Regions from separate parts of the Homo sapiens genome. Here all the other regions are reported to be linked to region 1. The links are microRNA targets in miRTarBase. Many come from high-throughput screens and were not tested one by one. Region 1 holds a microRNA gene; each other region holds the end of a gene's coding sequence.

Region 1 (7,469 bases):
ATACTCAACCAAGTGTCCCTTTTCTTTGAAGCTTTTCTTGCCCCGTAGGAGACCAGGGGAAGGTCTTGGGCCCATGTCCCTTCCTTTGTATGGCAGTTGGCAGGGATGACCAGATGCTCCTCCAGGCCTGGATGGCTCAGTCACCTCTCTGCCCCTTCTGTGCCCAGAACAGAATAGTGGAGGAGTGGATAGTAAGGAACCCCTATTGAGGTTTTGGCAGGTGGGGGGATGAGGGCCTCCCCCTGGGAACTGGGAACCCTACGCTCAGTCTTTAGAGAGGTTGAGATTGGTGGTCACAGCCCCAGACTTGCAGACAGAAAATCTGGGTCCGGATCCCAGTTTGCCACTTGGGCAAATGACTTAACCTCTCAGTTTGCTGATCCGCACTGGGAACTGACAAGAGTCCCTGTGCCCAGGTTCTGGGCATCTAGAGAGGGGCCTCATGGGGGCACAGAGCTGGCTCTGTTCATTTGACACGAGTCTGCATCTTGGACAGTGCCTCCGGAAAAGACCAAAGACAAAGGGAAGAAAGGCAAGAAAGACAAAGGCCCCAAGGTGCCCAAGGAGTCCTTGGAGGGGTCCCCCAGGCCGCCCAAGAAGGGGAAGGAGAAGCCACCCAAGGCCACCAAGAAGCCCAAGGAGAAGCCACCTAAGGCCACCAAGAAGCCCAAGGAGAAGCCACCCAAGGCCACCAAGAAGCCCAAAGAGAAGCCACCCAAGGCCACCAAGAAGCCCCCGTCAGGGAAGAGGCCCCCCATTCTGGCTCCCTCAGAAACCCTGGAGTGGCCACTGCCCCCACCCCCCAGCCCTGGCCCCGAGGAGCTACCCCAGGAGGGAGGTTTGTGCCGGGCTCCTCTGGGGTGATGGGGCTCTGACTGCCTGCTCGGGTGGAGGCAGGGAGTGGGAGGCAGGTTTCTGGGGCCCTGCTTCCTATAGACCTTCAGCTCCCCACTGGATGGGAACCTCACTTTTGCTATAAATTTCACAATTTGATTGGTGGGCTCCCTCAGTGCTGTAGCCTCTTTTGGGTAGGGAGAGGGCTTGGCAGCCTTTTGGGTGGGACCTCTGTCCCTCAGGCCCCTGCCCAGATGTCCCTGGGCTCTGAGCCCATGGAGTTCCCTCCTGCCTTCTCCCGCTGGGGACAGCTTTGTGGTAGGGCCTCCAGCAGCACAGTAGGTTCCCCAGAAGGTGGGCCCAGCTCTCTGGCCCCATGAGATGCCAGCAGGATGCTGAAGGCCAGAGGAGCTCAGGCCTCCTTGGAGTGAGCTCGGCCTCAGGAGGGTGTCCACAGGCTCTGTGTGGGCTCTATGGGTGGCTGGTGGCCTGAGGCTCCCAAGGTGGTCAGAGCAGGCCTCCCGCCCACCTGCTTCTGGAACTCCTGTGTTGCAGGGGCGCCCCTCTCAAATAACTGGCAGAATCCAGGAGAGGAGACCCATGTGGAGGCACGGGAGCACCAGCCTGGTGAGTGGCCGTCATCCGCCTGGCCTTGGGGCCAGCTGCCCTGGCTGGTTGGACTGAGGGCTTCCCCAGAGTAGGCCTGGGTGGGGTTGTCAGGCAGCTACCAGCGCTTTCCCCTCAGAGCCGGAGGAGGAGACCGAGCAACCCACACTGGACTACAATGACCAGATCGAGAGGGAGGACTATGAGGACTGTGAGTAGGGTCCTGCCAGCCCCACCTGGGTCGGACCCCTGGCCTGGGGGATGTGCCAATGGGCCCATCCCAGCCTTGGGCCCCACTCTGAGCCAGCCTCCCCCTCAGTTGAGTACATTCGGCGCCAGAAGCAACCCAGGCCACCCCCAAGCAGAAGGAGGAGGCCCGAGCGGGTCTGGCCAGAGCCCCCTGAGGAGAAGGCCCCGGCCCCAGCCCCGGAGGAGAGGATTGGTAGGATGGGGGGCAGGAGAGGAGGTGCCATGGCCACGGCGCTCTGGCCCCCTCCTAACCTCCCCGCCTCCCCAGAGCCTCCTGTGAAGCCTCTGCTGCCCCCGCTGCCCCCTGACTATGGTGATGGTTACGTGATCCCCAACTACGATGACAGTGAGTACCCAGCACCCCAGAGTCTGAGGGACATAGGCAGGTGGGGGTCGGGGCTGGGGTGTGGTCAGGAGCCAGCTGGGGCAACTCACCCACCTTGCAACCCCACCTGTGCCCGTGGTTACCTCGCTGTCCCTGCTGTCCCTGCGTGCCCACCCCAGCCACTGCCCTGTCTCCTCTGCCCTCAGGCTGGTCTTTCCTTGGCCGCTTCCCTGGTTCCTGCTTGGCTGTGACCCCCACAGGGGTGTCCCTAGGCACACACTCTGCCCTGTCACCCATGTGGGTTCCAGCCCTCCCAGTCCTGTGCTCTAACTGGCTTCCCGCTGGCTCGTGGCCACTGCCCCACTCTCTTCAGGGAGCCCGAGGGCTTTTGCCTCCCTGTTGCTCATGCCCCTGCGTCCCTGGAGCCCTCAGGTTCCCTTTCCTCCTGGGTGGCAGCCCGTGCATCGCCATTTCCCTGCCCCCAGGTCCCCATCAGTGCCTCCAATGTCTCCCCATCTCACCCCCCAGCCCGCAACCCCAGGCACAGGTGCCAGTTGTCCCTCCAGGCCTTTCCCATGCCCTGGGCCTCGAGTCCTTTCCCCAGGCCAGATGCTCCTGGAAGGCCGGGCTGGTGACTTCAGCAGGGTCTTGCTCAGCTGCCCCTGAGCTCGGGCTGCTCCTGACTCCTGCAAGACCCTCTCCCAACTCAGCTGTCCCCCATCTCCCGTCCTCCTCCCCTCTGGCGCGGTCCTGTCCTGCTGAGCTCCTGTGGACCCAGGAGCTGAGGCCCCGCAGCAGGGTCAGGGCAGCCTCAGCTGGCTCTCCCTCCCCATAGTGGACTATTACTTTGGGCCTCCTCCGCCCCAGAAGCCCGATGCTGAGCGCCAGACAGACGAAGAGAAGGAGGAGCTGAGTGAGTGGGACCAAGGACTTCCCACACCAGGCCTGCCCTGAAGGCCACCTGGGGCCTGCCTGATCCACCCCACATGGTCCTCAAAGCCCAGAGCCAGGCTGACTGGCCCCTCCTACCTTGCACCTTCCAGAGAAACCCAAAAAGGAGGACAGCAGCCCCAAGGAGGAGACCGACAAGTGGGCAGTGGAGAAGGGCAAGGACCACAAAGGTGTGTGGCTGGGGCTTGGGGCCTGGGTCCCTGTGGGGCAGCATCTGGACTCCTGATTGCCTCCCGGGCCCTTGGTGCCATGTCCTCCCTTCATTGTCCCTAGAGCCCCGAAAGGGCGAGGAGTTGGAGGAGGAGTGGACGCCTACGGAGAAAGTCAGTAAGTGGGGGGCACAAGGGGGTGAGGGTGGGGGCCACAGGATGGGGGTGCTGGGACAAGTGACTGGCCCAATGTCACAAACAGGACCCAGGTCCCCGGAACCCTTTCCTACTCAGATTCTTGGGACCCAGAAGGGAGGGGCCCCGGGAGCCCAGGATAGCCTCGCTTGGCTGCCCCAGCCCTGGACCCCAGGCTGGCCTGCTTCAGGAGGGTGGCAGCTCCCCAGGGCCCCTAGTGGCTGGGCGTGGTAGGGGGAGGACCTGGGGCCTTGGTGGGGAGTGAGGACCTCAGGTACCTTCACAGGTATCCCTGCAGGGCCATTGTGCAGACGGTCCCCATCTGGATGACATCTGTGGCTGCGCCCTGGGGGAGCTCTACCTGTGATTTCACGTGTGTCCCCTGAGAGCTGGGCATGGTCAGCCCGTTCTCCAGATGGGGCAGCTGAGGCCCAGGGAGGGGAAGCACAGGCTGGGATTGGAAACAGCTCCTGGCCTGGCTTTGAGTCGATTCCAGGTGGGCTGGTGCAGGGCACCAGGGAGCCACCAGCTGACCAGAGCTGCCCTCTGACTGTGCCCCCGATGTGCCGGGAGTGGGCTCTGGGCTCCTTGGTTCTGGGTTTGGTGGAGGGAAGGATGGAGCTAGTGAGCCACCATTCTGGGGTACGCGTCCTCAGAGTGTCCCCCCATTGGGATGGAGTCACACCGTATTGAGGACAACCAGATCCGAGCCTCCTCCATGCTGCGCCACGGCCTGGGGGCACAGCGCGGCCGGCTCAACATGCAGGTGGGCATTGGGATGGGCCCATCTCCCAACTGGGATAAGGGACTCCTCCGCCCATGCTCAGCCTCCCCTGCCCCCTGGACAGACCGGTGCCACTGAGGACGACTACTATGATGGTGCGTGGTGTGCCGAGGACGATGCCAGGACCCAGTGGATAGAGGTGGACACCAGGAGGACTACCCGGTTCACAGGCGTCATCACCCAGGGCAGAGACTCCAGCATCCAGTGCGTGGCCAGGCTCATGGATAGTTGGCAGAGGGGAGTGGCTACATAGGCATGGCTCTGTGTCCCATTAAGGAGATTCCAGTGGGCCCTTCTTTGGCCCAGCCAAAGAAGGCCAAAAAGATCAGTGAGGGACTCACCCTGCCCATCCCCACTCCTCAGCCTGGTCAGTCAGCCCCTGTGTCCTGATAGCACATGAGTTTAGGGACAGATCACCTGCCCATGGCTATGTGACGGGCATAGGACCCAGGCTCAACACCTGGGCCGTGCAGCACCACCCTGCTAGCTCTTAAATTCTTGGGGCTCGGAAGAGGGAGGCTCAGGCCACCTGAGGGCCTGGGAGGGGGAAGACCCTTGCTCTGACCACTGTCCACTCCACAGTGACGATTTTGTGACCACCTTCTTCGTGGGCTTCAGCAATGACAGCCAGACATGGGTGATGTACACCAACGGCTATGAGGAAATGGTGGGCACCATGCCCAGGCTCTTGGCTCTGCTCCCATTGTCTGGGCGAGGGGTGGGCTCTCAGAGGGGCTGGCAGTACTGCTCTGAGGCCTGCCTCTCCCCAGACCTTTCATGGGAACGTGGACAAGGACACACCCGTGCTGAGTGAGCTCCCAGAGCCGGTGGTGGCTCGTTTCATCCGCATCTACCCACTCACCTGGAATGGCAGCCTGTGCATGCGCCTGGAGGTGCTGGGGTGCTCTGTGGCCCGTGAGTGTGGAGGGCTGGCAGGGGCTCTGAGTGGAGGTGGGGTGCTAGGGTGGGCCAGCCGGCACCCAGCTAAAGACAACCCCGCCTCCCTTGCAGCTGTCTACAGCTACTACGCACAGAATGAGGTGGTGGCCACCGATGACCTGGATTTCCGGCACCACAGCTACAAGGACATGCGCCAGGTTGGGAGCATATATCCTGGGGCTGGGGGTGGGACCTGTCTGTGGCTGACGGGAGTGTGTGCCTGGTGCTTCTGTCACTGGGCCCAGTCCCTACTGGTTCCAGGGATGCTGGCTGTCCCTCACCTTAGGAAGGAGGCCAGTACCTGGGGGCTGCGTGAAGGGGTCATGCCCGTCCCTCGCCATAGAGCAGGCCCTGGAAGTGGAAGGGGCATGGTCAGCGGGGGACGGATTGCATGATTGATTCCACGTCCTCCCCCTCTGCCCCAGCTCATGAAGGTGGTGAACGAGGAGTGCCCCACCATCACCCGCACTTACAGCCTGGGCAAGAGCTCACGAGGCCTCAAGATCTATGCCATGGAGATCTCAGACAACCCTGGGGAGCATGAACTGGGTGAGGGTCTGTGGGGGCCAGCAGCTGGCCTCTGCTGCTGATGTGCAGAGCTCACTGCCTCCCGCCTGTTCCGGAGCCTCTCTGGGGATTCTGGCTTGTCTTACAGGGCCCTAGGAGCCCCAGCTGTCCCCCAGACCCTCGGGTATGAGGTGGGTCTGGGTCCTTCCTCAGCTGCCCTGGGCCTCGGGAGACTGAGTGCTCACTGAGGCTCCCGCCCTTGCAGGGGAGCCCGAGTTCCGCTACACTGCTGGGATCCATGGCAACGAGGTGCTGGGCCGAGAGCTGTTGCTGCTGCTCATGCAGTACCTGTGCCGAGAGTACCGCGATGGGAACCCACGTGTGCGCAGCCTGGTGCAGGACACACGCATCCACCTGGTGCCCTCACTGAACCCTGATGGCTACGAGGTGGCAGCGCAGATGGTGGGTTGAAGGGTGAGGCTGGCCAGGGTCCAGGCAGCTGGGGGTTGTGGGGGTGTGGGTAGCCGATGCCTACCCTGCTGGCTCCCCACAGGGCTCAGAGTTTGGGAACTGGGCGCTGGGACTGTGGACTGAGGAGGGCTTTGACATCTTTGAAGATTTCCCGGATCTCAACTCTGTGCTCTGGGGAGCTGAGGAGAGGAAATGGGTCCCCTACCGGGTCCCCAACAATAACTTGCCCATCCCTGAACGCTACCTTTCGCCAGATGCCACGGTGAGGCTACAGCCTGGCTGAAAGGGCAGGAGGGAGCAGCTGGACCCTGGGGTCCTGGTGTTCTGGGCTTGGGGGTGGGGCTGACGGTGCCTGAACTCCAGACGCTGAGGCTCTGGGGGTTGGGGGACAGGGGATCGTGCGAGTACTGGTGTGAAGCTTCATGGAGGGTGATCGGGCTAGGTTGGGGATAGTGGCCGGAGCTGCAGCCCTGGCCTCACACGTGCTGGCCACTCCAGGTATCCACGGAGGTCCGGGCCATCATTGCCTGGATGGAGAAGAACCCCTTCGTGCTGGGAGCAAATCTGAACGGCGGCGAGCGGCTAGTATCCTACCCCTACGATATGGCCCGCACGCCTACCCAGGAGCAGCTGCTGGCCGCAGCCATGGCAGCAGCCCGGGGGGAGGATGAGGACGAGGTCTCCGAGGCCCAGGAGACTCCAGACCACGCCATCTTCCGGTGGCTTGCCATCTCCTTCGCCTCCGCACACCTCACCTTGACCGAGCCCTACCGCGGAGGCTGCCAAGCCCAGGACTACACCGGCGGCATGGGCATCGTCAACGGGGCCAAGTGGAACCCCCGGACCGGGAGTGAGTCAGCCTGGGAGGGGCTGTGGGCGGGGCCTGGTCCGGAGAGGGGCTGACTTTGGGTCTGTATCTGTCCCCGGCCAGCTATCAATGACTTCAGTTACCTGCATACCAACTGCCTGGAGCTCTCCTTCTACCTGGGCTGTGACAAGTTCCCTCATGAGAGTGAGCTGCCCCGCGAGTGGGAGAACAACAAGGAGGCGCTGCTCACCTTCATGGAGCAGGTGGGGTGGCTAGGGCAATGCCTGGGGAGAGGAGGCTGCACAGGCTCCTGGATGGGCGGGAGGGAGCAGCGGACCACATTGGACCTTCCTGAGGACCAGCAGCCCTCACCTGCTTCCCTAGGTGCACCGCGGCATTAAGGGGGTGGTGACGGACGAGCAAGGCATCCCCATTGCCAACGCCACCATCTCTGTGAGTGGCATTAATCACGGCGTGAAGACAGGTACCTAGTGTGCACACCTTTACCCCATCTTTCTGAGGGAGGACCCGCCAGAGAGGGTGGGGGCTTGAGGAACTCAGCGAGCAGGTAGAGTCTGGGGAGCCTGGGGGCGAAATTCAGAGAGGGAGGGCGGTGCTGGGGGCGGGAACTCAGAGGGGGAGGGCGGGGCT
Region 2 (7,558 bases), not on the chromosome of region 1:
AATTGAAATGGACCCATAAATGCCAAAATTGATTGAATTAATATATTAAAACTTGTAATGCTATTAAAAATGTGCTCCATATGCTCAAGACAATGAGGACAAAAATAGAAAATATTAAAAACTTAATAAATTATATAAATATATATTTTATATATATATATCCTTTAGGATATATATGATATCATATATCTATATCTATCCGACTGGTTCTGTTTTTCTGAAGAACCCTAATAAAGATTTATGTACTGAGAGTGGTTCTAGAGAAACAGAATTTCAAGGACAAGTTTTCTGATTTGGATCTGAGTTTAAAGATGCTAATGACTCTATTTCCAGTAGTAAAGAAAGCACTTACACACCATGGCATGAACTGGTAATAGAGATAAACGAAATATCTGCATTGGATATTTCTGATCAACCACTCATAAGAAGCAAGGAACTAGGCAACTAGCAGCATTTACTGGCACATGATAAGCACTACTGAAGTTTTAGCTTTAAATGTTAACATTGCTCTTTTCTGGTATTCAAGTCTTTGCATTACACATCTGAAGATTGAGGACCAGTGTTCTGTCTCAGAAGAGATGGTAATTCCAGCCTACGTTGCTGAGCTCCTGTATTAGATCTTTGAGGCACTGCTATTTCAATATGAGAGAAAAGTGTCTCCCCAGCATCTGCAGACACAATATATCTGATTTATAAATTTAGTTTGATCTCTTTGCATTACTTGCCAGGATTGCCAAAGGGCAAGCTTTTGAAGCAAAATTCCTCAGAAACCCACTGAATGAAGCAACAGTTTCACCCAAAAAATCACACCAGTTCACAGTCTCTACTACAGACTGAATATTTGTGTCACCCCACCCATTCATATGTTAAAGCTTTAATTCCCAATGCAATGGTATTTGGAGGTAGATTCTTTGGGGGATATTAGGTATAGATGAGGTCATGAGGGTGGGGCCCTTTTGATGATGTTAGTGCCCTGATAAGGAGAGTAAGAGACCAGAGCTCCCTCTTTGTCCACCATGTGAGGACACAGAGAAAAGGTGGCCATCTGCAAACTAGGAAGCAGGCCCCTGATAGACACTAAATTTGTCATCTTGGACTTTCCAGCCTACAGAACTGTGAAAAATAAATGTTGTTTAAGCCACCCAGTCTGTGGTATTCTGTTATAGAGACCTGAACCAACTAAGACAGTCCCCTCCTTTCTCCCATCTAAATTGGAAAGAATGTTTATTGCAAGATTATAATTCCCAGTATACATCCAAAAGAACTGTTAGCTCCAGTCACCTCCACTGTTAGAAGCAGGACTAGCAGTCTCTTCATAAGCCAAAGTCCCAAGATCAACTTTTCCAAAACTTAGGCCTATTTGTCAACATTGTTTAGATCTCAGTAATTGCTAAGCTTCCTCCTTAAGCCTTCTGGCTCCTTGTCTACCACAATTTTCAACTTCCCTACCCTCAATCAATGCTCCACAGGGAAGGTTACAGGAAACCTCCATCTATATTCAAAACAAGGAAGGAAGATAATTAGGAGGATCATACTACTCATGGAACAAAAGAAATGTCTTGCCTATTTAAGTCTATGCTGACATTTCATAATACTAGCACTCTAGCTATAGCAAGAAACCACCCCTACACGACTCATTTAACTATGCTGCTGTCTGGCAAGACACGACTAGCATACAATATCCGCAAGGTCTACAAGACAGTAAAGGGGCCAGTGCTAGAGTGAAACAGGATGAGCTCTACTCTGGGAGATAAAGAGATTTTTTAAGACTAGACTTTCTGCTAACTAGCTGTGAGACTGTGGAAAGTGACTGTAAAATGGACATTTTATTGAGCATATACAGCCAGTGTACTGAGCAATGAGGATAAGTCACTATTTTCACCAAGCTATAGGGGATTTGGGAACCAGATTTCCTCAAAAGTGCCTTTCTCTGCCACATTTAATGAATCTGTGCCCATGTCCATGCTAAACAGCCAATCATTACATTATTAAGAGACTCAAGATACTTTGGAAGGCTCATTATCATCATACCAAAGCTGCTTAATTCTATAGGGTCACAAGGGGGTCCAGTCAGTGGGCTTGAATACAGCTTTATATAATGCCTGACTTCAGGAGTTGCTCTTGGTGCTACCTGTGCAAAAAAGAGTTTCTGGACTTAGAGTTCAGTTGTGGCCCCTTATTAAATACTGTCATAATGCACACGTGGGTTGTATATGGCCTAATGATACACCAATCCTAAGCCTTTCATGTTAATCCATTTTCTCTTAGGGATGCCAGGCAAAACTTTTTCTTTAATAAGAAAATTATATTTTACTGTTGCTGAAAATTCCTTGACCTCTCTGTGTTCCCAGTTGACTAGGGCAGCTGATTATTTTGTAATAGACCCTCAAGCCAACATCGCATGTGCTTCGTTTTTCAGTCAATGTTTCTCTGTCTTGGACATCATTGATCTGCCGTATAACTAAGTCCCCTTCCCTGGAATTCAGTGCAAGTCTCCTCTCATAGAGATGCATGGAAATAACAGTGATAACAGAGCAGTTCCTATGTTTGTCTTTTCACAGGAAATTGTCCTCAGCCTATGAATTGAAAAGAACATTTTCATGTTTTCTTCTCTTGCCCACCTTCTCACCTCCAGCCCACCCCTTTCAAACAACGGCAGTCTTTCCATCTGGTCTTGTTAACCCCTGGCTGAGGAAGCAAATTTTTCTATGTGATTGATATCTTGAATGTAAATCTAGAGCTTTGCCTTCACAGCCTGACAGGAATAAATAAAAAGACAAATTGTAGGTGCTTTGGTTGTCACAGCAGGGGCTCCTATCATGGCATCAGCTTTCTCGTCCACAAATGTGTGAATGGCCTGAAAGTCCAAGGTAATTGAAAGGCAGGCATAAACCTGTTTTCTCAGACATTAATGGAAATTGCCTCCTACTGATGTCGCTTTTCTGGCTTAGTGTTCTGAGAAAGAAACAAGCCATTCTGTTTCTAACACAAGTATTGAGTACGCTTTAACTAGTCCATCAAGGAAGAAAAATCTCAGTGGACTGGTATGGCTACTCAGTTCTGCCAATCCCATACTAAGAATGGCCCAATTTATCTCTCTCTTTCTATCTCTCCTGCCTCCCCTTTTCTTTTCTCTTCTCTTCTTTGTCTATCCGCTCTACTTCAGAGAAGAGAAAGAGAAGTATTGGATACCCCTGAATACCCACTTCATCTTGTGCCCAAAGTATGCAATATCTTAAGTTTTCTTCAAGTTTATGATGATGACCACTTCCACTAGCTATTATGCTGTGAAAATAATCCAAATGCCTGTGGTGGGTGAGTATGTGTGTATAAGTGAGTAAGTTTGTGTGTATTATGTGTGAGTATGTGTGTATTATCTCCAAATAATCCAAATGCCTGTGGTGGGTGAGTATGTGTGTATAAGAAATGTGAATAGGAACATAAAGAAAATACAGAATAATGATAAACCATGGTGCCGTGGTTTGCATGTGTTTCCCAAAGTTCATGTGTTGGAAACTTAACCTCCAATGCACGTGTTGGGAGGCAAGCCTTCATAAGAAGTGATTAGGACATGAGGTCTCTGCTGCTATGAATGGATTGTGTTGTTGTAACGGGAATGGGTTAGTTATCATGAGGGTGCTTTTGTTATAAAAACGAGTTCAGCCCCTGCTTCCTCTTGCTCTCTCTTGCCCTTCCACGTTTTGCCATAGGATGATGCAGCATGAAGGCCCTGCCAGATGCCAGCACCATGCTCATGGACTTCCCAGCCTTCAGAACCAGCAGCCAAATAAATTTATGCTCATTATAAATTACCCAGTTGGTGATATTCTGTTATAACAGCATAAAACAGACTGAGACAGGACGGGTTCAAAAAATATTGATTAATACACATACCTTGACCGAAAGAAAAAGTGATTACTAATTGGACACATAAGTGGACACATAATAAGCCGGGCACATAAATGGACACATACTAGGCTGTTTCAGGGAATGCTGTATAAACCAGCTGCTCAGCACTTGCAGCTCTTAGCAGTTACAAAACAACTAGATGGTTCACAAGACTCATGTGAAGCTGAGATTAGCCATGATCTGCCCAGCAAAGAGGGCAACCCTCAATCAGATTAGCCAGTTACCTGGCTAGTTGCTAGGTAATCCAAAGTTCCGGGGGTCACTTGTCAGATTTCCTGCTTGGCACTCCACATCCCTACCATACCCTACCTGAATACGAAGAACCCTCCTTCTCTTTCAAGGTGATTACAAGTCATCCTGCACTGGGAAAGAAGGTTACATTAATAACAGTTTGAATGGGGCTCATTAAATCTCAGGGCTTAGAGAAGCAGCACTACTTTTGATCAATTAGGAAATACATAAGATGTCACAGGAAGGCACTTCTCAAAACGATTAGGAAATATTCTCAGGCACCTTCTCTGCCCAGGTAACTTGTAGCGTCCTCATGAGTGGTAAGCGATGATCTGTAGGATGTGCCTTGGCCTCCACATAGCTCCCTGAAGCTAGTGATGATTAATGCACCAGCCAATTTCCTTCTCTTTGTCTGTTCCTTCTGAGGGCCAAATGACTCTAATCTCAGCAATGCTTTCTGCCCTCTGCCTCCTCCAAGGCTCTATCCCCTTCTAACCCAGATGACCCTCACCTGATCTGAGGCACAGGAAAGGGCAGGAAGATGGAATTCTCACAGTCTTTATTCTTTTTCCATTTATTTTTGTGGTATAAAATCATTCCCTTAACTTTCCTCAAAGCCTCTCCATAGGTGTTCAAGAACTTATTTTGGAAGTTTCAAAACATTTTTAAAAATTTAATCTTAAAAATGACTTTCTCCTTGCTGACCTGCTGCGACAATCCTAATTCTCCACAGGCAATTGTGAATGCCTCTGTTGGACTAGAGGAAAGGTCAGCACAAGAATGTTCAGAAAAGAAAAGGAGGAAAAAAATACAGTATTTCAAGACAACACCTCTTCACGACAACATTCACTGCTCCTCTCCTTCTCCTCTCCTTGACTTCTCCTTCAATAACTCTGCTGAAATTCCTTTCTCAAACCTCTTAGTTACATCTACTCATTTCCTTTCTTTCAAACCTCAATCTCTGATGATATGTGATAATGCTGACCATATCCTCTGTATTATTTAGGAAGGGGGCATGGTGATACATAAGCGGTAGGAATCTAACTCCATACTAGCTTAAGCTAAGAGGAGAAATTATTGGAAGGATACTGAGGTATTTCCTTCCAAATGAATTACTTGTTCAACCTTTTGTCTCAGGGTCTGCATCCAGGCCTAGCATGTTCAAATGTGTCCTCCCATCCAGGGTAGAAATTAACTCTGTAATAACCGCTAACAAATGCAGTTGCAATGTCTGAATGTCATTGTTTTTAACCAATTGAAACCTGCCTCCTTGTAACTTCAACATATTATATCTGCATCTTCCCTTAGGGCACACTTTGATACAAAAAGCTAGATCTGGATCAGACATAAAACTTCAGGCAAGAACACATTAACCATTCATCATGAAAATCTTCTCTAAAATGAAACATCATACAAATGAAACAATTCTGAAGAATAGCATCTTTAATGAGTGTTCTAATCCTTGTCATCTGAAGTTTTGAAATATATTTACCAGGGTCAGAACAATACAGAGATAGTATTTGTATAATATAGCTTATTTTAAATTTCATTTAAGCCCTCTCATTTCTCCTCCCACAGCTGCTGTTTTGTTTTGATGAAAGAGAAATAAGGAATAAATAAAAGGTCAATGCTTCAAACTAATCTACCTGTGTACTCCCTGAAAACTCTGGGACTGTATCCACAGAATAGGGAAAACTATTCTCAAATGCACAGTCACTCATGCCTCAGGCATGAACTGATGTTCTTTCAAAAGAAAAAAGAACAGGGGCAAACTTCCAGTCCTATGTTTGACACATACTAAAACCCCAAAGAGAAGACTGAATTGTATTTGTTCTCAGACAAGACACCCCTGTGACCACAGCATAATGAATTCTGCTCTAACATTTTAGTGGTTCAATCTCCCGACAAGAGTAAGTATTCCAGCCAGGCGTGGTGGTTCATGTCTGTAATCCCAGCACTTTGGGAGGCCAAGGCAGGCGGATTACCTGAGGTCAGGAGTTGGAGACGAGCGTGGCCAACATGGTGAAACCCCATCTCTACTAAAAATGCAAAAATTAGCTGGGCGTGGTGGCGGGCACCTGTAATCCCAGCTGCTTGGGAAGCTGAGGCACAAGAATCGCTTGAACCCAGGAGGCGGAGGTTGCAGGGAGATGAGATCACCCCACTGCGCTCCAGCCTGGGCAACAAAGTGAGACTCTGTCTTAAAAAAATTAAAAAAAGAATAAGGAATTCCTATCTGTGGTGGTTGACTCTATAGGATGAAGTGTGAGATTACTACTCAGGATAGAAATAGTTTGTATCTGTCATTTTTGTTCAAGTCCTCTTTATATTTGGTTCCATTGAGGAAAACCACCCTCTCTAATCAGGAGATCACGTTCTTTCTGTTATCCTAGTCATTTTGTAGAGTGTGTTCTGGCCCATGGGCTGTGTCAATCATACTTAATAAAATGATAGGCCTGAATGGAGCATTCAAGTTTCTCTAGTGCAATCCTCTAATTTTACAGATTTTAAAAAACCAAGGCCCAGAGAAGGTAACACCTATTTCAAGAACACGCAGCCAGCCTGTGCAAAGGCTCATATCCTTACTGACATTAAAAAGGAGGCAAAAGAGTAATTCGATTCAGATTTGGGAGAACAAAGGATTGTGTTTATACAGATGGCTGGGAGTTGAGGAGGAAGGTAGACACTGGAGAAGAAGGAAAAGCTGTCCAGTGCCCAGTTGTGCAGATGTTTTCACTCAGCCCCAGCTGCCTGCTGGATTCCAAGCAAGCTGACCAGGGCCTCCAGGAGCCTACTGGGTTTCCGCAGCACAAGGCCTTATGCTGGTGACAGAGATGCTCTGCCCTCTGCATCTCAGAGCGCCCGCCTCACACTCAGACATCGTCTGCTCCTTGCCGTTCACTTCCACACAAATGCTAAACCCTTCTTCCTCGCACTCCGATGCTTCTCGGCAGACACATTTGCTGCTCTCAGCTGGAAAAGTAAGTGAAAGAGGCTTAATGGTACATTGTGGAGGTCGGGGAGTCAAAGAACATCACCTCCAAAGTAATAATGTGGTGATCAGAGCTGTAGAAGCTCCTGCCTGGAATGACATAATAAATTATCCCCTGGAAAAGCAGTAGGACCAGGAAATTGGGGCATTTTGCTCCACTCCAAAGAAATAGGTTTTGAGGTTGGTAGCAGGCTTTATATTGGTTAGACCACATGGGGTGGTTTTATCCAAGTCAAGAGCTCTTCAACTATCTCCTACATACATGCTGCTGTCCATATAAGCCAGCAACTGAGGTCAAATGAGAAGCCCTCAACAAAGAACCAAGTCAAGACTCAAACAAAGAGAGAGAGAAAAAAAGAGAACTTAACTTGCTTTGAGAGAGAGCATGGCATGCAAAAGGCTACAAATCCCAAAAAACAAACCAGA
Region 3 (7,580 bases), not on the chromosome of region 1:
GGGAAGTCAGGTGGGGAAAGATGCTTGTCTGGGGGAGGGGGACTGGAGGAAAGCTGGGGCTGAGAAGCTCCAGCCCCTCTGGGGGCTTCAGTTAGGGGAGGGCTGCCCCAGCAGGATGACAGAGAGATGATTAAACCCACAGAGAAGATTGATAAGGGAGCTAAACAGCTGCAACTCTGCAAGGTAGGCTGGGACAAATCTCATCTTGTCCTGGCGGCACTCAAAGCACTGGGGGGCTGGGCCAGCCTGGCTGAGCTCATGACCTACACAAGCTCCAGAGCAGGAATGGGGGCAGGGGTGGCAGGCTGCTCCCACCTTCTTCCTCAGGGCCCAGCCCCCATTCCTGCCGCCTCAGAGCTCCCTCCCTGAACAACACCCATTGGCACCTAGGCGGCGTGCCCCTCCTCCCCGGTGCCCCTTCACCCACAGCACCTCCGTCTCAGCTCTCACTCTCGGTATTATTAGATGTGATTTACAGCGGAAACGCTGAGTCAGACAAACCAAGACTTCCCCAGACAGAGGCAGTGGGAGAAGACAGGAAGAGTCCAGGGCAGCTGGCCTCCCTGGGCAGGGTCCTCAAAGGGAGTGAGGAGATGGGGACAGGGGTCCCCAGCTTCCAGGATGAGTGGGAAGTTTGCCCCTCCTGTTTCTCCTTTCTGTCCCAGGCCCAGGATCTTCATCTGGGACTCCTGGATATGCAGACCCCTTTTCTGACTCCCAAGCAGCCTCTCAGCCTGTCCTGCCAGCCCCTGTCTCTTCCTTGGCAAGTTTGAGAAAACAGCCCAGGGATCCTGGAGCCTGGAAACAAGGTGGTTCTGCTGGGTCCTGTTTCCTCACAGCAAGGCCCCGGTTCAGAAGGCAGCCCCTGACTCCCAGAGATGAGAGGCAGGAAAAGTGCATGGCTGGGGTCCCAGCCCCCTACTCTACAAACAGAAACACGGGCACTGTGTGCTCCTGGGGCGTCCAAGGGCCCTAGAACCGGTGGAGAGCACACATTTCTGCTTCCACCTTGTGCGGAAGAGCACAGTGGGCAGGTCCGTCTCTGCTCCCTGGGTCTCTGACTCCCTGGCAGGGAGGAACTGGGCATTGTTGCCAAAAATAAACGTTCCCTCTCCCGCTCCCTGGCTCCCGGCTCCCGCTCATTAGGATGCGTGGCGTTTGGCTGCGGTCCCACACCTTGCAGCTCATTATAAATATGCAGTCGCTGCTGGCGCTACCCCAATCATCTCTGCAATCAGAGCTTTTAATTAGGTTAATTAAATTGTATCAAATCTCGCAGGGACGCAGTTCACTGATGCTGATGAGGCAGCCAAAACAGACCCCAGCTCCTCCGCTAATGAAGGCCGCTGCCTGCCTGAGCCATGAGGGAGCAGGAGCGCATAATAAACGGGCGCGTCCTCTGGGAGGAGCTGCTGCCCAGGCCGAGCTCTGGGGACCTGGCAGGGGGTCTAAATCAAGCAGTCCAGGCTCCAGCTGCAGCAGAGGCTCCCAGCCCAGGAGCCGGCCCCTTCACACAAGAACCAGGGCAGCTTCAGGAGCCCAGGCACTGAGAGCCTGCCACGCTTACATAGCAAACTTGAGGGGGCCCCAAAGATCCACTGACTCTGTCTGGGACTCCTCTTTACTTCTCCCCCAGAATGGCCCAATAAGGCCAGGGCTCCCTCTCCTACACACCTATATACACACACACATACACATACACACACACACACACACACACACACACACCAGCAGTTAGCCCTGTCACTGCCCCCGGATTGTCTTATTAGCCAGAGTGGCCAGGCTGAGACTAGAAAGCCCATCCTGCCACTGCCAGCCTAGTCTCCATCTGCTATGGAGACCATCTGCCCCTGGCGGGGGGCTGGGGTGGTCTACAATGCTACCAGCCAGCAAGAGGAGGGGGTGCTGCCCCCTAGGCTCCATGTGCCAGATGGACCTTCTATATTCCACCTACCACTCCACCTCAAGAACCCTCTGCCAGGGAGGGACACCTGTCCCAGACCTCCTGGGATCAAAATAGCTAGGGAGGGGAGATGGTCCCTTCCTTCCCTGGTCCCTCGCCACCCTGAGTTCACTGTCCCATGCCCTGGCAATCCATCTCTGGGCACTGGAGACCACAGGCTTCAGAGCTGCAGGGCCCTGCAAAGGTCCTCCCCTGCCTATAAGCAGGAAGGCAGGTGCTGCCACCTCCAAAGGGGCTGTCCCCAACACTCCACTCAGCCTGACTCCAACCCCTCCCCTTAACCCCTCCATCACTGGTCTCAGTGTCTCTGAGCAGATGAGGAGAGAGGATGGGGAAATTTTCAGTGCTCTCGGGACAAGTTGTTTCTGCTATAGAAGCTGGTTTTTTTGGTTTGGAAAGGTGTTTTTTCTTTTTTCCACCCAGTAATGTGAAAACATGAAACCCGAAACCAACCCCCTACATTTGTCACCTCTGAGAGAAGCCTTTGGGGTAACTGGGAGAAAGCTGTAAATGACTCAGGCTGATTCAGGGCAGGGGGGTGCTGCCCAGCTGCCTGGGGCACCACAGTTTCATTAACCCGATCTGAGCATGGCCGTCAGGTGACAGATGCAGGGAGGGGAAAGGAAGCCCTTTCCATCCTCTGCTTACCCCTAAACACAGCAGTTCCCTTGATATATTCCTCTTGCCTAGAAAAAGCTGGGTCCTTAGCTCCGTTCTGGACGAGCCTCTCCTACCACCACGCAGGAGCACAGGGCTGGACTGTGCAACCACCCCAGCCCCAAGCAGTTTGTTCCCTTTGCATTAAGCGAAGCGGACAAGATGAACAAGGAGACCTAGGTGTATGCTTCACCTAGGAGTAGACTGGACAAGACTTCCTAAATGTGATGATGATGGATCCAGGAATAGGGAGCCAGGAAATTCCTTACAGGGAGCCTGAGAAGCAGCGGAGACGTTCTTCCCTCTGGCCAGAGCAGTTGAGGAAAGAACAGGCAGAAGCATGAACTAGGCAGCCTCCTCTACACTCCAACCTCTCAGCAGTAGGCTTGGGAAGGGAAGCTCTGCCTCCCTTTGTTTTACAGCTTCTCTCTGATCCTTCCCTGCACTTTTTGCTGAGACAGACCTGTGGAGACCTGGTTGGGTACAGAGGGCGCACCCTCTGACCCGGGGAGGCAGCTGCACAAGCCCAAGAGGCCTGCCAGGTCCACTTCAAGACAGTACTTCAGGTCCGCCCCCAATTCCTCCACTCACCTGGGGCTTTGAGCCAAGACTCCCACCCACGATTCAGCCCGCCCTTCCCCAACACCCTGCACATAAGGCTCCGGGAACTGGCACGCTGGGAGAACTTGAGCGGGGAGCCCAGCACCACACACCCACTTGCCTCACTGTTTCAAGTCCCAACAGGCCCTGGCCTCACCGGCCTCCACAGGTAGGCAGAGCGAGTCTGCATCTGTTGGCTGCCTTCCCTGCTGGAGGACGTGCAGCTCTAACTGCTCAGTGCCCCACCGTCAGCAGCATGGGGGAGAGGACAGTGAGCGACAAACAGATGCTTAAAGCTGCACGGAGGGAGACCCCTCCCAGGTCTGGGTGGAACCACCCTATGGGAAACTTGGGGCTATGTGACAGAGACCTCCCTGCATGGTCCTCACTAGAAACAGGAAGGAAAAGCACCTTCCTGCCCAGTCTTCCTCCTGGGGCCACACTCATCTCAAACTCAGGGTGAGAAAATCCCATTTCTTCATGGGAGCTCTCCCCCCTAGCATTAAATTCAATAAGCAAACACATGCAAGTACTTCCTAAGTACAAGGACACTTTTGAAAGAAGACAAGTGTGCTGGGTGGGTGGACACCAAGTCCCTGAGAAGGAATCCCAGCAAAGGGGCAGCAGCTCCACCTGCTGGGCCCTTTTCCACCCTGGCACCAGGAAGCAGTTAGAAATCAGAAAAAGATTGGCTAGGAGCAGTGGCTCATGCCTGTAATCCCAGCACTTTGAGAAGCCAAGGAGAGGTGGATCGCCTGAGATCAGGAGTTCGAGACCAGCCTGGCCAACATGGCGAAACCCCGTCTCTGCGCCTGTAATTCCAGCTACTAGAGAGGCTGAGGCAAGAGAATCGCTTGAACCCAGGAGGCGGAGGTTGCTGTGAACCAAGATCGCGCCACTGCACTCCAGCCTGGGTGACAGAGCAAGACTCTGTCTCAAAGAAAAAGATGAACTTATTCAAGAATAAAGCTAGGGCTTGACACTCTCCTGCTTTGGTGGGAAGGGCCCTAGGATGCAGCAACAGACTAAGACTGAGCCAGGCTTACTGAATTCTCTGTTGGACAGACCTGAAGGGTCCACATCACCATAGAACTGCTGTTTGGAGACTTGGTTTGTACAAGAGACCTGAGCCAAACAAGTCCTGACTCAGAAAATCCCTCCAGCTCCATAGGCTGCCCACAGCCCCCTTGGCACAGCTAGAGCAGTATGCCACCAACAGCCCAAATCACCCCTAGGCCAAAAAGGGCGGCTAAGCAAACAATACTCTTCCCTCCCCAACAAGCCAAGAGTCTAGGGTCCCACTGAGTACCAAAGCGGCAAAGCCCTGGCCAATTCTCAGAATACATGGGGCTGGGGCCTGTCTTTGCTTAGTCACAGGGACAGCCAATCTCTTTGCTTAAAATCCTTGAGTCTTGGAGACAGCACTCAGTGTAACAGCAATTCAGAACACCCAGCTCCCCTTACAGCACTCCGATTACCTTCAGCCTGGAACTCACAGTACACCAAAAGGATGCACTTTCCTGCTCCATTTGGCCTGGGAGTGTGGCTCTTCAAACGTCACTGTTTGTGCTCCTGTGCCAGACGGTGTGTAGGTATGCCTGTACCTGTTTATGAGGCCTGAGTTATATGTGCCTTGTGCATCTGTGAACATGAGATTCCATGAGGCGAGCCTACCTTCATGTGGGTGTGTGGTTCGTGAGAAGGCATTTAGGTCTATTCCCTATCCTCTCCCCCACTTTCCCACCCAGCAGGGGCAAGAGACGGAGCAGCAGCATCCAGCTGTTTGACCCCAGGATCAGACTGCTGCTTAGTCTGCTCACTCCCCTGTCTAGTATCACTATGATGAGTCCCTTCCCTGGTTTGATCCTCAAGTCTCTAAAACTTTCAGCATTGACTGAGCTCAGCACCTCCCCAGAAGGGAGTGCATACACACAATGGGAAGCATTTCCTTCCTGAAGGCAAAACCTACTGGTTTCTGTTTCCTGACCCTTCTTGCTGTTTTCCAGGGCCCCTGATTTAAATTCCACTGGGTACACCCTGAGGAAACAGGCTTCTAGTCTAGGCTTGTACAGGAAGCTCACAGTCATGGGCACTTATTAAGCATTAACAATTTTCTTTTAAAGCCTTACAATCCACACATGGCTGTTCTCCCTCCTTGGTGTAAGGGCTACGCAAGCCCCCCAGAACCCCGCTCCCTGTTCTCCCATGTTTGCTCTAAGCATGTTCAGTCCTGTCCTTACTGTCCTTGGCCTATAATCCTGATATGGGCAAACAAAGGAAGGAGAGAACCAGAGAAGAGAAAGAAGCTGGCCAACACACCCAGGGGTCCATATTCCCAGAGTGAAGGTCTGCACCAAGCTATTCTAGCCTTGGAATTGTGAGTTGGCATGGAGTGCAGAGGACAGAGACACAGCCAGGCCTATACTGATTTGAGCTTCATCAATAAGGAAGAGGTGCTCCCGTAGGTTCCTTGTTCCAAGAGTTTCTATCTGCAGCTGTTAAGTAAGAGAAAAAAATTCCTCCTTGGATAATTTATGAAGCCACCTGAATAGCCAATAAAAGAAGAATGAGTGAGGGTAAAATCAGTCTATCCACTAGATAAAACACTATGCAATCATTAAAAATAATATTTATTTTAACGTTTACTCTAGCATATATTACTGTAAAAAACTTTTGTGATGTAACAAACTGGGAAAGAGCTAATGATTTAATTAAAAAGTAGGACATCGGCCGGGCGCGGTGGCTCACGCCTGTAATCCCAGCACTTTGGGAGGCCGAGGCGGGTGGATCATGAGGTCAGGAGATCGAGACCATCCTGGCTAACAAGGTGAAACCCCGTCTCTACTAAAAAAATACAAAAAAAAATTAGCCAGGCGCGGTGGCGGGCGCCTGTAGTCCCAGCTACTCGGGAGGCTGAGGCAGGAGAATGGCGTGAACCCGGGAAGCGGAGCTTGCAGTGAGCCGAGATTGCGCCACTGCAGTCCGCAGTCCGGCCTGGGCGACAGAGCGAGACTCCGTCTCAAAAAAAAAAAAAAAAAAAGTAGGACATCAAATTGTTTACTGTAACTATAAAACACAAAAACATGGACAAAAAGTGATGCCTCGTTTTACAAAATGGAGGAAATCAACTAGACTACTCACAGTAATTGTCCACCTCCACAGCTCTAGCTCCTAGCACAGTTAAGCATGCAATAAATATTTGTTATTATTGAATAAGCACTGGGATTAGGAATGAATTAATCTACTTTCCAAATCTGCTGTAATGAGATCCTATGTTTCATAACAAAAAAAATTATGGGCTGGGCATAGTGGCTCATCCCTGTAATCCCAGCCCTTTGGGAGGCCAAGGTGGGAGGATCGCTTGAGGCCACGAGTTCAAAACCAGCCTGGCCAACATGGCAAAACCTGGTCTCTACAGAAAATTTAAACATTACTCAGACATGGTGGCACATGTCTGTGGTCCCAGCTACTCAAGAGGCTGATGCAGGAAGATCACTTGAGCCCAGGAGTTCAAAGTTGCAGTGAGCCATAATCACACACTGCACTTCCAGCCTGGCAACAAAGACCCTATCTCAAAGAAAAAAAAAATTAAGTATATAAAAATAAGACTAATTTCACAATCCAAAAACAATTACAGAAGGGAGGGAGATTTAATGTTGTCCATAGAAAGACATTAAATGTCAGACTGACAATTTAGTTATGGTTACAAACCGGAAAACCATGCCATTTGGAGTAATGGAATTTGAAGTTACTAGAAAACGACAACAGATTTTTGATACAGAATGACAAGGCTTATCTATAACACGTCAACGTTTTCGACGACTCTGAAATTTATAAATAGCTGGGGAGTTCACCGTTTCTTTCTTCACCTTCACTTTCTGAGTTTTATCCTACAAAAGAGTAAAAAGGTGATCAGTAAAGAGAAGGAAATGGTTTTGTAAAATCGAAAGGTTAATAAACTACCTATTAGCACCTGCTTCAGCCCTTCTCAAAGTTGAGAACGGACACAGCCCTACTGCCCAAGGCATCCACTGTAGGCAATGAATTAACTTCTCCCCTAGGCATCTAGAAAGTACTAGCTGTGTACAGTCCTAGGAAAACTGAGAAGAAAGGTGTTCAAGTAGTTGTTTCATTTAAAATTATAATTTTAATTCTCTCACGGAACCCCAGTTGAGAAAGGCTGACCTAAATGATCTACAAAGCTAAAGAATTTGACATTTAGAGGAATGATAAGAATATGAAAGAGGCATCTTATATTCCTCAGCTCTGCTATTTAACTACACAATGTTGTCTATTTTTAAACACCAATGAGTGACATGCACTGTTTTGTTAACCTGTTTAAATGTTACGGGAGCTGCTC
Region 4 (7,580 bases), not on the chromosome of region 1:
AATTACTTCTTTTAAAACTGGCATTTAGGATTTAGAATTAGAATTTTTAAAATTAGGGAGCATGTGAATTTCTAATCTTCCCTTTTAATTTACATTAGTCAGAGAAGCCATCCTGGACTATTTTTGTATCAAAGAAAGTAATGACTTTGGCAAATGTACCTAGTTTGAAAGAATACAAAATTGATGCAAATGCTTACACTAGGAAGTTTCCAATTCGGAGTTAAAGCTTTCCATTTACAAACTGTATAAAAAGCAAAATACCAACGGGAAATTTTCAGCATGACATTTGAATCTAATTTGGAGGTGGCAACTAGTACGGTTGTTGGTATCAAACAGCCTTGTGTGAGGAGATGGCAGTGAACACTTCTAGTTAACATTTACCATTTGTTTTACTAAATAAAACATGGTCAAGAGCTTGGGTTTAAAAGGCAGTAAAAGGCTATGAGATTAGATTATAAGAACAGGGTTGACCTACACAACATTGGGGTATGTTTGTGATTCAAATACTTATTCCAACATTGGATTGGATGGCATTATATTACATAGATAATGCCTAGCAAGAGGGTAATTACAGCAAAAAACCAATGAGAATAGTATTTCTTAGACTGTTTATAAAACAACAAAACCAACTAACTCAAATCCCAGACTAAAAGGAGCTTCACAGATAGTGTATTACTCAGGGTTCACCAGAGAAACAGAACCAACAGGAGATTATATGACCATATATATATATATTATAAGGAATTGGCTCACATGATTATGGGGCTGAAAAGCCCAAAATCTGCAAAGCTGATGTCCCAATTCAAGTCTGAAGGCCAACAGGCTGCCACAGAATCAGGAAGAGCCAATGTTTCAGTTAGGAGGCAGTCAGGCAGAATTCTCTTGGGGGGTTGGGGAGAGTCAGTCTTTTGTTCTATTGAGGCCTTCAACTGACAGGACAAGGCCCTCTCACATTATGAAGGGCAATCCTCTTTGCTCAGGTCTACCCATTTAAATGTTAATCTCATGCAAATATACCATCACAGAACACCCAGAATAATGTTTAACCAACTATCTGGGTATCCTACGGCCTAGCCAAGTTGCCACATTAAAATTAGCCATCACAGGTAGTAAGTACAAATATTTCTGGGACAATATTCTTGAGAGACAGCTAGATATACATTCTCCAGGTACTTTTATATTCATCTATTCCTCTCTTCTAAATAAATCTACTTTCAATGTGCAAATATACCTCATATGCATTGCCTTTCAATATTTCCAGAACAGGGTTCTTTTTCTCAGCACTACTGACATCTTGGGCTAGATATTTCTTTGTTGTGAGGGCTGTCCTGTAAGATTGTAAAATGTTTAGTTGCATCCCCGGCCTCTATTACCCATGTTTGAGAATCACTGTTCTAGATTGATACCAATACAACAATTTGTTAACAGCTGTTGTATTGTGGCATCACTAGAAATTTCAAAGTCTAGGTGCAGTGGCTCATGCCTGTAATCCCAGCACTTTGGGAGACTGAGGTGGGAGGATCACTTGAGCCCAGGAGTTTGAGGCTGCAGTGAGCTATGATGGCACCACTGCACTTCAGCCTGGGAGACAGAGCAATATCCCATCTTTAAAAAAAAAAAAAGGAAAAAAAGAAAAATTTTAAAGTGATTTCTAACTTGTCTTCATTTTTCCTTAACCACTGTAGATAACCTTCTCAGGCATTAGCAGACATTTGTATATTTGGGGTTGCCTTATATTTCGTTGTCTTTCCTATTAACTGCTGGGATGAAAATATATATGCTAAATATAAAAATATATATTAAATATACATTATATGAATATACACATGTAATATTCATGATAGTCTCATATTTTGGCGAATTAATAGCCGCTTGGCAGATTGGTCTGAATTCTGACAGCACAGACCACAGTGTCTTAATTTGCAAGTCTCTCCTCTGATACAATCATACTTGATGGCTTTTTTTCCACATTAATCTAAGACGTCACTTGACAGGAAGTTAAATGCCTCTATTGAGAAGGTATGTGGTCCATTTTCTTTCTTACCATTGGCCAAGAATATCTCACCTGTTAGGGTTAAAGGGATGAAAGTGATAGGGTTAAGTTTAGCGATAGCTTAATGTTCATTCTGTGGTGGTTTTTTTTCTTTTAACTTACTGGACTCTAGTGGGAATCCTGGAGAATGGAACCTACTCCTCTTTCCTCTGAGTTCCTGTGTGTGGATTTCAGGCCACAGAGGTGCAAGGTGCATGAACAACAAGGTGCTGGTGTGCAGGCCTGTGTGATTTCCTGGATTTTGACTTGCTAGCCTGTTAGGCTCATTTACAATTTCACAAAATTGGAATGTAGAATTTTATATATCAGTAATGGCATCTGTTTGCTTTCCTATCTCGTTTGCTGTATATGCTTGAGTCTCCAGATAAGTTGGGTGTCTTGAAGTGGATATGGGAGACCTGGGTCTGACTTCTGGTTCTGCTACTTAAACTAGTGTATGTCCCTTCTCAGATTTAGTTTCATTGTCTATACAATGTGACTTACTTTTTCTTTTGGGACTATTTCAGTGATTAAACATGACAGCTTATATATAAATGAAAGTTGTAAACACAGTGCTTGGCACAGAGTGGGTAACCAATCAACATTATTTAAATGAGTAAGAAAAGTGAATTTGAGCAAAAAAATAAAAAACAATACTATTACCTTATAACTCATAGAATAAAATAAGTATCAATGAGTCCATACTGATGTAAATAAATAATTGAACAAACAAGGAAATGGGGGAAAGGAGATAATTCTTTCTTAAAGAGGAATTCTGTAATAAATGTAACACATGTTGAAGGAATGAGAAAAATAGAAAAACCATTACAGTAATGGCTGTCGCAGGCAAGAACTACCAATATTTGCTAGAATTAGCAGGCAAAAGTTTGAGGAAAAACAGATATTTGTATAGCCTCAAAGTACTGCCCCTAAAATAGATATTAATTACAAAGGGAAAATAATAACTTTATAGAAAAAACTGGCAGATACCACCTTAGCCAGGTGATCAAGGTTGACATCACTGGTAATAAGACATATTAACATTATGTACCCCTGATATAATAAATCCAGAAGGACATACTCACTTCTGTGGTATTCTGGTCAAAAAATGCATAACTTTAATCAAATCATGAGAACATTACAGACAAATCCAAATTGAAGGACATTCTACAAAATACACGATGGATACTGTTCAAAAGTGTGAAGGTCATGAAAGACAGGGAAATACTGAGGAACTGTCACTGGTCTGAAGAAACCAAAAAGATACAACAACTAAGTAAGTGCAATGTGGGATCCTGCAGTGAATCCTGGAATAGAACAAGGACATTAGTGGAAAAATTGGAGAAATCCAAATAAACTCTGTAGTTTAGTTAATTATACAGTACCAGTGATGACTTCTTAGTTTTGATAACTCTATTATGGTTATACAAGAATTTAACACAGGGAAAGCTCAGGGAAGGGGATATGGGAATTCTCTATTTTTTAAACTTTTCTATTAAGCCTGAAGTTTCAAAATAGAAAGTTTTTAAAAAAAAGTTAATAAGACAGCTGTAATTATATTGTTGTCTTTTTATACGTTTACAAAGGGCCAAATTCACTTGATGCTCTTTCTACCACTACCCTGCTGATGTGGTTTGGCTGTGTCCCCACCCAAGTTTCATGTCGAATTGTAATTCCCAGTGTTGGGGGAGGGATCTGGTGGGAGGTGATTAGATCATGGGGGCAGATTTCCCCCTTGCTGTTCTCATGATAGTGAGTTCTCAAGAGATCTGATTGTTTAAAAGTGTATAGCACTTCCCCCTTCACTCTCTTGCTCTCTTGTTGCCACAAGATGTGGTTGCATCCCTTTCATCTTCTGCCATGATTGTAAATTTCCTGAGGCCTCCCCAGCCATCCTCCTGTACAGTCTGTGGAACTGGAAGTCAATTAAACCTCTTTTCATTATAAACTACCCAGTCTCAGGTAGTTCTTCATAGCAGTGTAAAAATGGAAGAATACAAAAAATTGGTACCAGAGAAGTGGGACATTTCTATAAAGATACCTAAAAAATGTGGAAGCAACTTTGAAACTGGGTAACGGGGAGAAGTTGCAACAGTTTGGAAGGATCAGAAGAAGACAGGAATATGAGGGATGTTTGGAACCTCCTAGAGACTTGTTGAACAGTTTTGACCAAAATGCTGATAGTGATATGGACAATGAAGTCCAGGCTGAGGTGGTCTCAAATGGAGATGAGGAACTTATCAGGAACTGGAGCAAAGGTCACTCTTGCTATGCTTTAGCAGAGACTGGTGGCATTGTGCCCCTGCTTTAGGGATCTGTGTAACTTTGAACTTGGGAGAGATGACTTAGGGTATCCGGCAGAAATTTCTAAGCAGCAAAGTGTTCAAGAGGTGGCCTGGTTGCTTCTAAAAGCCTATGCTCATTTGCATAAGCAGAGATAACTTATATTTAAAAGCAAAGCAGAGTATAAAAGCTTGAAAATTTGCAGCCTGACCATGTGGTAGAAAAGAAAAGCCATTTTCTGGGGAGAAATTCAAGCTCACTGCAGAAGTTTGCACAAGAGGAGCCAAATGTTAATAGCCAAAACAATGGATAAAATGCCTCCAGGGCACTTCAGAGACCTTCGTGGCAGCCCTCCCCAGCCCCACCAAACAGGCCCAGAGGCCTAGGAGGAAAAAAATGGTTTCGTGGGCTAGGCCCTGGGCCCAGCTGCTCTGTGCAGCCTTAGGACATGGCAGCCTAATTCCCAGCTGCCCCAGCTCCAGCTGTGACTAAAAGGGGCCAAGGTACAGCTGAACCATTGCTTCAGAGGGTGCAAGCCCCAAGCCTTGGCAGCTTCCACGTGCTGTTGGGCTTATGGGTGTGCAGAAGGCAAGAGCTGAGGTTTGGGAGCCTCTGCCTCAATTTCAGAGGATGTATGGAAACGCCTGGATGTCCAGGCAGAAGTCTGCTACAGGGGTGAAGCCCTCATGGAGAGCCTCTACTAGGGCAGTGCAGAGGGGAAATGTGGGGTTGGAGACCCTACACAGAGTCCCCACTGGGGCACTGCCTAGTGGAGCTGTGAGAAGAGAGCCATCATCCTCCAGACCCCAGAATGGTAGATCCACTGACAGCTTACACTGTGTACCTGGATATGCTGTAGGCACTCAACACCAGCCTGTGAAAGCAACCATGGGGACTGTACCCTGCAGAGCCACAGGGGCAGAGCTGCCTAAGGCCTTGGGAGCCCACTCCTTGCATCAGAGTGGCCTGGATGTGAGACATGGAGTCAAAGATTATTTTGGAGCTTTAAGATTCAAAGAGTGCCCTGCTGGGTTTCAAACTGGCATGAGGCCTTTAGCTCCTTTGGGCCAGTTTCTCCCACTTGGAATGGGAGCATTTACCCAATGCCTGTACCTCCATTGTATCTTGGAAATGACTAACTTGTTTTTTATTTTACAGGCTCATAGGTGGAAGGAAGTTGCCTTGTCTCAGATCAGACTTTGGAGTTGGACTTTTCAGTTAATGCTGGAATGAGTTAAGACTTTGGGGGACTGTTGAGAAGGCATGATTGTGTTTTGAAATGTGAGAAGAACATGAAATTTGGAAGAGGCCGGGGTGGAATTGACATGGTTTGGCTCTGTGTCTCCACCCGAATCTTATGTTGAATTATAATTCCCAATGTTGGGGGAGGGACCTGGTGGAAGGTGACTGGATCATAGGGACAGATTTTCCCCTTGCTGTTCTGCTGTTCTCATGATAGGGAGTGAGTTCTCACAAGATCTAGTCGTTTAAAAGTGTGTGGCATTTCTCCCTTCACTCTCTTGCTCTCTTGTCGCCATGTGAAGATGTGCTTGCTTCCCCTTCACCTTCTGCCAAGTTTCCTGAGGCCTCTCAGCCATGCCTCCTGTACAGCCTGTGAAACTGTGAGTCAATTAAACCTCTTTTCTTTATAATCTACCCAGTCTCGGGTAGTTCTTTATAGCAATGTGAGAATGGATTAATATACCTGCCACCCTTTTTGCTGGGACCATGCCTCAGAGTTTACAAATCTGCTCCCCATGTACTATCTCCTGGAATCCTCAACAATGCTGTGAGACATTCCCACTTTGAGTTGATAAGATGGGGCTCAGAGAGGCAAGACCTTACGCTTGCCTAAGGTCACCCAGCTGCTCTTTCCTTTCTCCTGCACAGTTACATCAGAAGCCAGTTGGTGACAGAAAAACACGGTCCGCTCAACAAGGATCATACACAAGCCGGTGATACTTTATTATATAAGAGAGTTGTCAAAAGGACAGTTTCATTTCTGTTTCAGAATCCCCACATTCCAGTGATCCATCTGTTGACACAATTAACATAAACTATTTGCTGATATTTACTGAGTGCTTGCAATGTATCAGAGTCATTAAATAAGATGCAACTTCTACTGTGAAAACTGGAATCTTCATTAGGACACAGACTTAGAAAAGGCCCAGTTTCAAGGATTCTGACTTGCACAGACTGAGCACTCCCATTTCCAGAAGTTCGAATACCTCCTTTCTTATCTAAATGAGAGAAAAGGGGGGAAAAAAAGATTAAGATCAAGCCAAAATGGTCTTGGTGAATACATTCAACCATCAGGACTCCCTGATATTTACCCAGCTGTTATGGCCAGAATCAGAGAGTGCAAAAGTCCTAACACACATTTGATTCAGAGTTGAAATTTTTAAAATTATTATTATTATTATTTTGAGACAGAGTCCCATTCTGTTGCCCATGCTGGAGTGCAGTGGCGTGATCTCGGCTAACTGCTATCTCTGCTTCCCAGGTTCAAGTGATTCTCATGCTTCAGCCTTCTGAGTAGCTAGGATTAGAGGTGTGTGCCATGATACCTGGCTAATTTTTGTATTTTTAGTAGAGACAGGGTTTTGCCATGTTGGCCAGTCTGGTCTTGAACTCTTGGCCTCAAGTGATCCACCTGCCTTGGCCTCTCAAAGTGCTGGGATTACTGGTGTGAGTCACTGTGCCTGGCCTATTATTATTATTGTTTTGTAGAGACAGGGTCTTGCTTTGTTGTCCAGGCGGGTCTCGAACTCCTGGCTTCAAGTAATCCTCCCACCTTGGCCTCCCAAAGCACTAGGATTACAGGTGTGCACTGCCATGCCTGGCAGAATTAAAATATTTATATAAATGAAGGAGGAGGTACTATATAAAACATTAGTTTCATTAAAGTGCCCTTTTGTTTGCAGCCATTCAAAATAAAATGCTATACAAAGGTGTTTCAAGGACTCCACAGTGTGCTTTCTGTAAACAAGATTATATACAATAGTTCAGTATAGGATTTTATTGCCTTAGGATAACTGCTGAGAATGACAGCAACAGAATAAAAATAACTATGGGTGACAAGATGTTTTTGGACATTTCTCATTATTAGAATTAGAAACTTAGTAGATTAGTCAAATTTAATATTATAACTGAAATAATCAACTATGGCCTCATGCCTGATATCAAATTTGTTAAACCAGTTTTAAGAAACCAGTCAAGTCAGGGGACAAAATGCACGACTGTGTATGTGTGTGTGCATGTGCGT

The links. Region 1 holds the annotated microRNA hsa-miR-4649-3p (UCUGAGGCCUGCCUCUCCCCA, at 4,842-4,862, shown strand). A microRNA usually pairs through its seed, bases 2 to 8, with sites in the 3' UTR of a target mRNA and lowers its output. Matches are read on the target gene's strand: a 7mer-m8 pairs with bases 2 to 8, a 7mer-A1 pairs with bases 2 to 7 and ends in A, and an 8mer does both.
Region 2: miRTarBase lists C7 as a target of hsa-miR-4649-3p. Seed matches in the 3' UTR shown: 7mer-m8 at 6,243-6,249, 8mer at 4,656-4,663 and 7mer-A1 at 4,561-4,567.
Region 3: the mRNA of UTP11 is a reported target of hsa-miR-4649-3p. Seed matches in the 3' UTR shown: 7mer-m8 at 6,134-6,140.
Region 4: the mRNA of CMSS1 is a reported target of hsa-miR-4649-3p. Seed matches in the 3' UTR shown: 7mer-m8 at 5,896-5,902 and 7mer-m8 at 3,908-3,914.

What each region holds. Positions count from the first base shown.
Region 1 is chr7:44,106,050-44,113,518 of GRCh38, forward strand. MIR4649 (microRNA 4649) reads left to right here and starts at 4,800; the gene lies at 4,800-4,863. It overlaps AEBP1 (AE binding protein 1), which reads left to right. Exons shown (of 21, transcript NM_001129.5): 2 at 497-838; 3 at 1,390-1,461; 4 at 1,580-1,651; 5 at 1,760-1,882; 6 at 1,958-2,035; 7 at 2,850-2,927; 8 at 3,058-3,135; 9 at 3,239-3,292; 10 at 3,966-4,075; 11 at 4,158-4,297; 12 at 4,676-4,760; 13 at 4,864-5,008; 14 at 5,105-5,190; 15 at 5,458-5,581; 5 more.
Region 2 is chr5:40,980,947-40,988,504 of GRCh38, reverse strand. C7 (complement C7) reads right to left here. Exons shown (of 18, transcript NM_000587.4): 18 at 3,862-7,113. The coding sequence ends at 6,932. Among named protein-coding and RNA genes, the nearest start is that of C7, 75 kb to the right of the region's middle.
Region 3 is chr1:38,023,075-38,030,654 of GRCh38, reverse strand. It overlaps UTP11 (UTP11 small subunit processome component), which reads right to left. Exons shown (of 8, transcript NM_016037.4): 8 at 5,835-7,110. The coding sequence ends at 7,027. Among named protein-coding and RNA genes, the nearest start is that of UTP11, 14 kb to the right of the region's middle. RefSeq lists enhancers at 700-779, 1,913-1,962, 2,782-3,333, 3,334-3,886, 4,053-4,552.
Region 4 is chr3:100,177,280-100,184,859 of GRCh38, reverse strand. CMSS1 (cms1 ribosomal small subunit homolog) reads right to left here. Exons shown (of 10, transcript NM_032359.4): 10 at 3,128-6,555. The coding sequence ends at 6,472. Among named protein-coding and RNA genes, the nearest start is that of FILIP1L, 67 kb to the right of the region's middle.